4 separate regions of the Homo sapiens genome follow, and all the other regions are linked to region 1. Evidence: fine-mapped expression QTL. A gene starts in region 1. Each other region holds a variant in brackets. All regions are shown on one strand. Distances are from middle to middle.

Evidence for each region. PIP is the estimated chance that this variant, and not a neighbour inherited with it, causes the effect.
Region 2: its variant is fine-mapped to the expression of CREB3L2 in whole blood (TOPMed, PIP 0.97).
Region 3: its variant is fine-mapped to the expression of CREB3L2 in whole blood (TOPMed, PIP 0.96).
Region 4: its variant is fine-mapped to the expression of CREB3L2 in unexposed skin (GTEx, PIP above 0.99). The same link has a PIP of 0.9 or more in sun-exposed skin.

Annotation. Positions count from the first base shown.
Region 1 is chr7:138,000,982-138,003,668 of GRCh38, reverse strand. It overlaps CREB3L2 (cAMP responsive element binding protein 3 like 2), which reads left to right and starts at 1,583. Exons shown (of 12, transcript NM_194071.4): 1 at 1,583-2,065. The coding sequence starts at 1,964. It overlaps LOC124901752 (a long non-coding RNA gene), which reads right to left and starts at 1,362. Exons shown (of 3, transcript XR_007060551.1): 1 at 1,279-1,362. RefSeq lists enhancers at 1,284-1,333, 1,564-1,633, 1,724-1,813, 1,362-1,959, 1,904-2,043 and 1 more.
Region 2 is chr7:137,948,783-137,951,469 of GRCh38, reverse strand. The region is part of intron 1 of CREB3L2 (cAMP responsive element binding protein 3 like 2); the gene reads left to right. Among named protein-coding and RNA genes, the nearest start is that of CREB3L2-AS1, 3.2 kb to the left of the region's middle. The variant G/A (reference allele first, on the strand shown) is at 1,032.
Region 3 is chr7:137,880,533-137,883,219 of GRCh38, reverse strand. It overlaps CREB3L2 (cAMP responsive element binding protein 3 like 2), which reads left to right. Exons shown (of 12, transcript NM_194071.4): 11 at 592-808; 12 at 2,669-2,687. Among named protein-coding and RNA genes, the nearest start is that of DGKI, 35 kb to the right of the region's middle. The variant T/C (reference allele first, on the strand shown) is at 1,184.
Region 4 is chr7:138,028,888-138,031,574 of GRCh38, reverse strand. No RefSeq gene overlaps it. Among named protein-coding and RNA genes, the nearest start is that of CREB3L2, 28 kb to the right of the region's middle. RefSeq lists an enhancer at 1-335. The variant C/T (reference allele first, on the strand shown) is at 1,417.

The sequences.
Region 1 (2,687 bases):
GCACTTTGAGAGACTCAGGAGAGAGGATTGCTTGAGCCCAGGAGTTTGAGGCCAGCCCAGGCAACAAAGTGAGATCTTGCCTCTACAAAAAATTTAAAAATTAGCCGGGTGTGGTGGTGCACATCTGTGGTCCAAGCTACACAGGAGGCTGAGGCAGGAGAACTGTTTGAGCCCAGGAGGTGGAGGCTGCAGTGAACTGAGATCGTGCCACTGCACTCTAGCCTGGGTAACTGAGTGAGACTGTCTCAAAAAAAAAAAAAAAAAAAAAAAAATCTCAAAAGACCCCAGAAGATAGGACCAGACAAATGCAATAGTTTATATGATAAACTGCTGCTTTAAAGACAACATAGAGTTCAAAGACATTTGTCTCCACCCGCCAAAAAATACTTGCCAAGGAAACAACACAATAGCTAATACCTGAATGTGCCATTGTAAGAAACTTCTAGAGCTAACTGGCAAAGACCTGCTTTTATATTTAAGATAGGTAAACTATATTTTTGGAATTAAAAAGGAGGAAGAAGAATCACAGTGTTCGGGGGAATTCCTTTAGAACAGGCCATCTCTTCCCTATTCTAGGAGGCAGGCCTGGTGCTCTGGCCCTGGCTCACCTTTCTGGCCTTTCCCACCCCTCCCTGCCAAGCACCTCTGCTGCAGCCACACTGGCCTCCCCAGCAATCACGTGAATACCAGCTTCCCCCGAAATCTCATTTCCTTTAGGAAGAACTTCCCTGATCAGCACGTAAAATAGCATCGATCTTGACGCATCCTGTTTTCCTGCTTTTATTTTTCTTTATAGCAATTTCCACTTTCTGAATTTAAATGTTTATTTCTTTGTTTATTGCCTGACTCCTCTGAGATAAAAGCTCTATGAATTCAAGGACTGGGCTCACTTCTGTAGGACCTGGAAAAGCATGCCATTGACTCTTATCAAGCAGATGAAAGAAAAACATACAATAAGTGAAGTCCATAAAAAATAGAAGAACCCAACAGAAAATGGGCGAAAAAGGTGAAGAACAATGACAATTTCCTAGAGCTGCACTAATATAAATGTATGTGCATGAGGAATATTTGTATTTTTGTATAATATGTAATCCATTAAAAAAATTCCGAGAGATTCAAATGAACTAAAGTACTCGAAAATGTTTAAGCCCCCCGCGCAACAACTCTCGCGCCCCCTGTCGGCGCGCTGGTAAATTTCTGAGGATTCTCAGCAAGAGGACTGAACTCACCCTCCCTCTTTTACAAAATGTATTCTTGTCGCTATTTCATTGGCTGTACCTTTCAGACGCCCCTTTCACATTAGTCAAGCCTCCAGTCCATCACTTCCGGACCCAAGCCCTCTATTGGTCAGCTGTAGGCGACAGCAGACAGCGGGCCGCGCTCAAGCAGGAGGAGTTCCTCGGTGACGTCACAGACACTCCCCGGCTACATTCCAAGGCGTGGGCGGAGACTTCCCGCGGCCTCTGCCTTTGGGGGCGGGACAAAGCCGAGAATGAGACTTCTGATTGGGTCTGCTAGGCAAGGCGGATATCCAATTGGTCAAGCCTTGGAGGGAGGTGGGGCCGCAGCTGGGTCCTGGAGCAGAGCCGAGGAGCCCTGGGGTCCCTCAAAGTTTGTGTCTGGAGCCGTAGCGGCAAGTGGGCTTGCGGCTAAGGGATTTTCCTGGGATGAGAGCGGGTCTTCTGCCTTCATTTTGGATGCACATCCCGCTTTAGCCCCGGCAGCCTTTGGTCCGGCTCGTGTCCCTGGGGATTCTCGGATCTCCGAGGACACCGGACGGGAGCGCTTGGCCATCCTCTCTCCGGCAGAGGAGCAGACGTTTGCTTTCCAAGTGCAAAACTACAGACACGCGCGCGCACACACGCAAGCACACGCGGAGAGAGAGGAACCTTGCCGGTCCGAGGCAGCTCTGCGCGTCCCCTCCTGCGCTTAGCATCCTCGGCCCAGCGCGGCCCGCACCGCCATGGAGGTGCTGGAGAGCGGGGAGCAGGGCGTGCTGCAGTGGGACCGCAAGCTGAGCGAGCTGTCAGAGCCCGGGGACGGCGAGGCCCTCATGTACCACACGGTGAGGACCCGGCGGGCGGGGCAGGAGGGCTTTCAAAGCGGGCAAGTGTTGTCACGCGAGGAGCAGCTGGAGTCCTGGGACCCGGGAAGGCAGGGTTTGGGGCAGGGCATGGTCAGAATCAAGAGGTCCTGGGCGAGGTGTACTTTAATGTCTGAGCAGATGAAGGCGGGCAGCTGGCCCCTTTACATTTCTCATGAGAGTAATGCCACTTTGTATTCCTTTAACAATTCATGCTTTTTTCCCTGAGGCTTTTTCCATCTGTAATATCATTTGCTGTTGTTAACAGTACTGTAATGCGGGAGAGGGAGTGTGTGTTTTGAGAATAACATGCCTCCGCCTAGTTTGCTATTGATTTTTTTTTGAGGTTTTCAAAAACTGGACAAGATTAAGTAGCATTTCCTTTTCATCTGTCTCGTATTCTCTCTCCCTCTCTCCCTCCCTTCCTCTTCTTTCATATTTATATTTTAAAAAGTACACGTGTGTGTGTGTGTGTGTGTGTGTGTGTGTGTGTGTGTGTGTGTTGAAAGGGCTCCTCTACGTTAGGGAGAAAGGCGGCTTTATTTGCTTTCTTAAACTGTACGACCAAGAAGTCTCCTTCCTCCCTCTTCGGAGGAAAAACCAG
Region 2 (2,687 bases), 52 kb after region 1:
AGGATTAGGTTCTTGCGGGTGTCTGATTACATTTTTATCACTAATCAGTATATAACCTTGTTTTATGTGTGCTTCTGTTTAAAGACACCATACTTAATGTATCAATATATTGTTGGTTTATTAACATTGAGCTACAGCCAAGAGTGCTATCACCCATACCTGAACAAAGCTTATCGAACACGTGGATTTTTTTCTGTGAGGCATATCACAGCCGTCTTGTACTTAGGACACTAGATAGCACTTCAGCACTGTGCTTGGGAGGTGTTTTAGACAGCAACGTCACCAACAAAAAGCACAAAGATATGAAAAACATGGCACTAAATAGACCATGAAAAGGAACCTGCGTAATAGCCTGAGAGCTACAGCAAGAAGGCAGAGTGTGCCCTTTTTCAGCCTTAGCTGGGCACGTGCATGTCAGTGACTCAAATTTTTTGCCACTCTATGCGGATTCTCAAATGACCATGAAAGTGCCACAAGTATTGATTTTTGAGGTTACAAATACATTTTATCAATTAGACACAATTCAGAAATATGGAATCTGTGAATAGTGAGGATCAGTGTATTATTCTTCAGACTGTACCATGGCTGTACCATGAAACTAGGGATCTTGAAACTAGGGAAAGCCTCCCCAGGCCTTTGAATTACTGGAGTGGAGAAATGAAAAGGTTCCCTTTCTCCTGTAATATTGCAATTAAATGAGAATATGTGAGTCCTTTATAAAGTGTGTTTTGAGATCTAGCTTACACCTTACAACGACACAGTTTCTGATATGTCCTTTTGTTTGTTTGTTTGTTTTACTCTGAAACTAAATCATAAATGGCTCACCTTCGGATGCATACACAGACACTGCTACTCTGGTGTTTGTGGAGCCTTCGTAATACCTCCTCACTCCCCACCCCAAACAAACCAAATCCTGAAAAAAAGCACTACTACGGAGTAGCTCAGAAGCATGGGGTAGAGGAGAAACAGCCCTTTGTGTCTCAGTAGGGAACAGTGGTGATAATATCACCTTACATTTATGAGAGGCGTTA[G/A]CATTTGTGAGCTTCTTTGATGTGGTCCAGTTTCCCCAGAAAAAGACAAGTGTGGACTGATGGTAATCATACCTGACCTTACCTGAAATGACTATCAGACGTTTTGCCCTCTGGAGAAATCCAGGGTGTGAGTCTTGATCCTTTCTTTGACCAGTGCCTGTTTGGTGAGAATAGCTATCCCATTGGAAAACACAGTACCCCTCATATGACCCACAAATCCATGACAAAACCACCCACATTTTCACCATCGAAGATCAAGAAGCATATGGTGTATTGGAAAGAGTGTGGCTTTTGCAGTCAGAGGAACTGATTTTGATTTCCTAGTTCTACCCCTTCCTCAGCTGTGCAACTTTGGGTAAGTTGTAAAGCCTCTCTGAGCTTGCATTTTCTCATTGGTCTAATGGGGATAATTATGACCCCACTCATATGTCTGTTGTGAAGATTAAATAAAATAATATACTTAGCCACTTCCCTTATTATACTTCTGACAGTACCTCCGTTGACAAGGAGCTTATCAATAGATCCTTAGAGAAAATCAGTGAGTCATCTTGACAGTGACCTTTGTTTCCCAGCAACTCGGCCTGGAGTTGATCACTCTCAATAACACCATTATCAAATAACCAGTGCGGATTGGGTTTTGCATCCATGAGTGTCTAAGCAAATGTCACTATTTAATTTTATTCTTCCAAAACATGTTATTTTTCCCTGGTGTGAGAAACACAAATGTTCCAAAGTAAACATTCATGAAATATCCCTTAGATTTTTTTTCTAATCTTGATTGGGGTGTTGACAAGCTTTACGTCTGTGTTAGCTGTTGAATAAAGTCATAGAAGAGACTTGGTGAATATAACATACCCAGGTCAAAGGGGTGTGGGAAGAGGCTAGTGCAACACTGGTGTCCATTTGATCCATGGGAAAAGCGAAATATAAGGAAGTAACTTGCACAGAAGGATCTTGAAACTAGGGAAATCCTCCCCAAGCCTTTGAATTACTGGAGAAACAAAACCTAGATTCCCTCTCTCCTGATAATTTTGCAATTAAAATGAGAATACGTGAGTCCTTTATAAAGTGTGTTTTGAGATCTGGCTTACACCTTACAACGACACAGTTTCTGACATGTTCTTTTTTAAACGTCTGTGGGAAGTTAGCAAGTGAATCCCAACTGCTGGATTGCCCATCACGGGTCCGTATCAGCCTCACTGTGGCAGAGATAATGGGGTCAGCAGTTTGAATGCCGAACTCCAGGTCCAAGTGGCTATTTCCGTTTGCACTTTGATAGCTGGCATTTGCCTAAGAGAAAATGATATTTCTTTGGGCTGACTTGGCCTTTGAGATTGCCATGAGACGAGTGATCTCTGTACCCTGATGTTAGGTGTAGACTTATTTCTCAACTAGGAAGAGGGACAACTTCATGTAAACATGTTTGGAACTTTGTTCCATTCTTGTGTGAATGTCCTTTATATTTCTGATGACTCCTATGGTGTAAGTTGGTAACAGACAGCCATCCTTAAGCCTGGGATAGTCACAAAACTGATGATCCTGCTGGTTTTCATCATCATCACTGAAACTCATTTGAATGGCCAGTTGTTCATTATGTTGTGCAGGTCACAGAACAAGGACAACAAAATGCATCTGATATACCTTCTTGGAGCTTGC
Region 3 (2,687 bases), 120 kb after region 1:
TTCCCCCCAAGGAACTATCTCTCTAAATTTAATTGGAAGCATAGTTTCTATGTCATGGAAAATTGCTACAGAGCCATCTAGCTGTGTGACTGTCCTACAAAACAAAGGAGATTGTCTCTATCCTTTGATTTATGGCTTTGGCTTTGTGTCTCCTCTTCCCTTTCTAAATGAGATGCCCTGTACCTCATCCCCCTGCCAGACCTACTCACTGGGAATGCTGCTTCTTTTAGCTGGGTCTGGACATCTCCAAGTATTCCACTCCCATTCTCCATGAATCATTTTCCCTAGATGGTTATGGGTGGTAAGGGGGGAGTTTTATATTTTCAAAGCAGTGGGGGTGGTAGTTTGCCTTGTGTTTATTTGCTTTTCTATTGTTCTTCCAGCACTGTATAATTGGTATAATTTTTCAATGCACAAACTCCGAAGCTCTAAAGTCTTTATAGAAAGCCAAATTCTGTTGGCACCCATGGTTCTGGGCAACGAGAACACACACATTGTCATCTGCCACCAGCCCTGAGCACCTGGAGTGAGGGAATGTGTTGGACCCCTGTGGTCTTTTGCTAACACCTTATTATTCTGCTCTGTCCTCAGTGAGATCCAGAAACCTGCTGATCTACGAGGAACATTCTCCCCCAGAGGAGTCATCCAGCCCGGGCTCGGCTGGGGAGCTGGGGGGCTGGGATAGAGGTTCCTCCCTGCTCAGGGTGTCAGGGCTGGAGTCCAGGCCGGATGTGGATCTTCCCCATTTCATTATCTCGAATGAGACCAGCCTGGAGAAGTCAGTGCTTTTGGAGCTGCAGCAGCACCTGTGAGTCATAGAGACACAGAGCCAACTCCTCTAGTGCACTGATGGTGGGTTATGAGTCAGCAACCTGAGATGTGAGGTTGAGACTCTCCATAGGCCTGGTTCAGTCCCTCAGCTCTCTCAGGACCTATTTCCAGGACCTGGGACTGCAGAGAGTCTGTTGCTGGCCAACAGTTGCCCTGAGCAGAGATGAGGAAAAAAACCAGCGTGAGCTCCCCTATGTCTGCTGCATCAGCGGGGAGCTGGCGTGGTGGCACAAAGAAGTGCTTGAATCCCTTCCCCCACTGTCTCCATCCTCCCTTCCAAGCCACACGAGTGAATGCACAGCCCAGGTAACCACAGTGTGTTTGCTGTGCAAATCCAACTTTAAGACATGTT[T/C]CATGGCTTCAACTAGGGAGTAGATATATATTGTGCTATATGTCAATATATGTTTATGATTTATATGTAAATACACATGTGTTAATTAAAACTATACATATTATAGTTTTATACTTATAGATGTATGTTGAGGGGTACCATTTAAGAGGCACTGTGCACACATTTCCATATTGAGAACAACCTCTATTTGGCTCCAATTCTACATGAGTTGTTTCTCAGTTTCTGGGAAAAATCCCTTTGTAAACATAAAGGCTTATGCGACTGCAAGGTATTGTTGTTGTAATAGGGGAGGTCCCTGGGCCTGCATGCATGCTCCTGGTTACGTGTGACATGGTTGGTGATTTAGCTGAACTCTGCTCCTATGCCTCCCAGAAATGAGGCCGTTCCGATGTAAATGGGAAAGATTTTGTTTCAGATTCTTCAGCTTTCATCCCCTAATTCTGCAGGGGAAGGTTTATAATGAAGTACTTTTATGTGTGTACATTATACATACATATTTAACATTTACTAGCACTTACTATTTTAAGCACTTTACAGATGTGAGGCAGGTTGACTATCCCTTATCTGAAATGCCTGGGACCAGAAGTGTTATAGATTTCAGATTTTGGAATATTTGCATTATACTTAACAGTTAAGCATCCCTAATCCAAAAATGCAAAATGCTTCAGTGAGCATTTCCTTTGAGCGTCATGTCAATGCTCGGAAATTTCTAGATTTTGGAGCATTTTAGATTTTAGATTTTCGGATGAGGGCTACTGAAACAGTATCATACAAATCCTTTTAAGTATCCCATGTGGTAAGGCATCATTATTATTCCCGTCATAGAGAGACTTGCCAATGTAGCCACCGCTGGGATCTCTAGAAGACCCAGTGCCTTCTTACTTGGCTCTGGACACAGTTTCTCTTCTCTCAGCTAAGCTGTTCAAGGCCCACTTCAAATCCCATTTGTTCTGTGATGTCTCCTAGATAACAAAGCCTCCTAGCCCTCCTCTGAATGCCTAGAAATTTTCCAGGTTGTTACACAATTTAATAATGTATTTATTTTCTGTTATGGATTTATTATTATTTCAAATTAGCTCATTGTTAAAAATCTTTATCTGGATTATTAGCTCTTCTAGGCCAAGGATCAGCTCTTATCATTTTATTTTCTCCTTCCCTGAGTTTAGCATAGGGCTAAACATCCTAAGTAAATAGAATAATTTAATGCATCTCATAGCAGATCAATATCAAGCCACCATGATTATCCTTAGTAGGGTTGGGATGCCTTGGGTGTAGATAAAGGTAGGAATGTGGACTAGTGGAGAGGCTGGTAGCAGGGGACTTTGGAAACAGAGAATTGCTACTAGGAGAGAAAAGGACAAGAAACATGCCCAGGCCGTCTCACCAAGTTGCAACCCCTGAATGATTGCATCACGCTACAAAGCATGAGAATTGTAGCTAACAGCTGGTGACTAATACTTCGTTTTCCTTTTAATGCCTTCACAGGGTCAGCGCCAAACTGGAG
Region 4 (2,687 bases), 28 kb before region 1:
AGCTATGCTTCTGTCCTGGAAGCTGCATTGAAGAGAAACCAGGAACCTGGGCAAAGGATTCCTTTACCCGGAACCCGGAAGCAAAGGGGTAAGAATTTCTTACCAGCCAGGGGGCCTCTCTCCCTCTGTGCACTCCAGCCGATGAGATGGTAAAAATCACTGGTTGTCTCCTCTACATGGTTTTGATCAATGGGAAAAAAGAATTTGTGTGACAAGCCTTGGGTTGTAGTGACTCTGGTGTACATGTGGTATGAATATTCATACTGTTTGACCCACTTCCCTCGCAGAAATAGCTTTTTTTGTTGCTCTTTTCCTTTGTCTTTTTCTTTCTGGGTTGTTCCGTCATAAAGAGGGGTACCGTAGGGGAGAACATGAGCCTAGAACCCCTTTAAACCCACTGTTCAAGAGCCTGCAGACTCATCAGTTTTCACAGTTCTATGTTGTCATCTGTAAAGACAAACTTTGCTGTAGGTCCCAGAAATAAAAATCAGATGAGAGTCCCCTCTCATCTTGTTTTATGGCCTTGAGAGCTTGATCTTGTGACTAGATGGGGGTACCCTCTCTTGGTCTCTGCCATCCGGACTGCATGATTTTTTTTTAAATTTTAACTTTTATTTTTGACACAAGATCTCATTCTGTCATCCAGGCTGGAGTGCAGTGGTGTGATCATGACTCACCAAAGCTTTGACCTCATCGGCTCAAGTGATCCTTCCACCTCAGCTCCCCAAGTAATTTGGATTATGGGCACGTGCCACAATGCCTGGCTAATTTTTTTTGATTTTGTGTAGAGATGGTATCTCATTATGTTGCCCAGGCTGGTCTCGAACTCCTGGGCTCAATGTTGGAGGTGGGGCCTGATGGGAGGTGACTGGATCCTGCCTCAGCCTCCCAAAGTGCTGGGATTACAGGCATTACACTGTGTCCAGGAAGAGGGCATGAATTTTTGGGTTCATATCAGGGGACCAGTCTGAAAGGACAGGGAGTCCAAGATGTAATATTTTAAGCAGCACACTCTTCATCTCAAGGGTGTCAAGCTCTTAGGGGAGTTTTGTCTTAAAAGGTCCCGTCTCTATGGGGCTTCTGTTGTGTAAACCAAAAAGTATCTGAGACAGGTCTCAATCAATTTAGAAGTTTATTTTGCCAAGGTTAAGGACATCCTTGGAAGAAATAAACATGGAATCACAGAAACAGTCTGTGGTCTGTGCCTTTCTCTAGCTGTGATTTTGAGGGCTTCAGTTTTTAAAGGGGAAAAGTGGGCTGGAGGGGAAAGAGGGAGGGTATGGTAATCCACATGTTGCAAGAGAAAAGCAGCAGGCAGGGGAATTTATGCATTCAATTTATGTATACAATTATGTATTTATCTCATGATCAGTAAATCAGCACTTTACATAAGATAAGGTGAACATAGAGTAGCTG[C/T]CTGAGGAGATGATTAACCTTTTATCTGCAGCTATCTGCTTAGGAACAAAAGGCAAGGCAACATCTTACATGACTCAGCTTTCAGGATAATTTTTTTCTTTTGGCATAATGAATTAGGGCCCCAAGTATTTATTCTCCTTTCACATTGTCTTTTGTTACTTTAAGTCTATTTCTGAGAGTAAGTTTTTAATGATCATGGGGATTGCTTCCTCGACGCCCTCCCCAGGAATACCTCTTGCTTATGTAGAAAAAAACCTGGAAAGTTACCACCTGGGCTTTCAAGAGGCTTTTGCATTGAGTTACTATTGGAACTAAGTACACCACTGAAAATAAAAAAGATTTTATACATTTCTTATTCTAAATAATTAATGGGAAAATCAAAAATTTTAAAAGGACATAGGCTAGTATCATGGCTAGCCTTAGAAATTCTCTTGATAAAATTAAAAAGAGTGAAAAAAAAAAGTTTTGACCTGAAAGTTAAAATCTTTTGCAAGTTCAAAACTGCCTGCTCTACATTCCCTCCGGGAAGATCAGTGGAGAGCACCTGATGTGGTTTGGATGTTTGTCCTCTCCAAATCTCACGCTGAATGTGATTCTCAAAGTTGGAGGTGGGACCTGGGCGGAGGGAGGGTGATTGGATTATAGGAGCAGATCCCCCATGAAGAGTTGAACACCATTCCCTTGGTGATAAGTGAGTTCTTAGTTCATGCAAGTTCTGGTTGTTTAAAAGAGTCTAGGATCTCTCTTCTTTCTCTCTCTCTCTCTCACTCACTCTTGGCATGTGACATGCTGGCTCCCTATCACCTTCTATCATCATTGTAAGTGTCCTGAGGCCTCACCGGAAGTAGATGCCAGCACCATGCTTCCTTTAAAGCCCGCAGAGCCATGAGCCAATCAAACCTCTTTTCTTTATAAATTACCCAGCCTCAGGTATTTCTTTATAGCAATGCAAATACAGGCTAATGCACCACCCCATGCCGTAGTACAGTAGCTAAGTCTCTCCCATTTGACTAATGCTGCGTGGGTTCAATACCCAGCCAGGGAATTGCCATTTATTGATCCTTTTTCCTTCCATGGACAGTTTCCGATTTCTCGTCCTGTGTTTTCCTTTCTCTGAGCTATCTCTAGGGTGATTCTGGATCGTGTAAAAATTGTTTGCCACCTCTTTGGAGATAACTCGTGCACCCATGATTAAGTCATAATTTTGATTGAGACCCTTAGAAAGATACCTTTGGTAAAGAAACTCAAAAGCCAAAAATATCGGCTGTTGT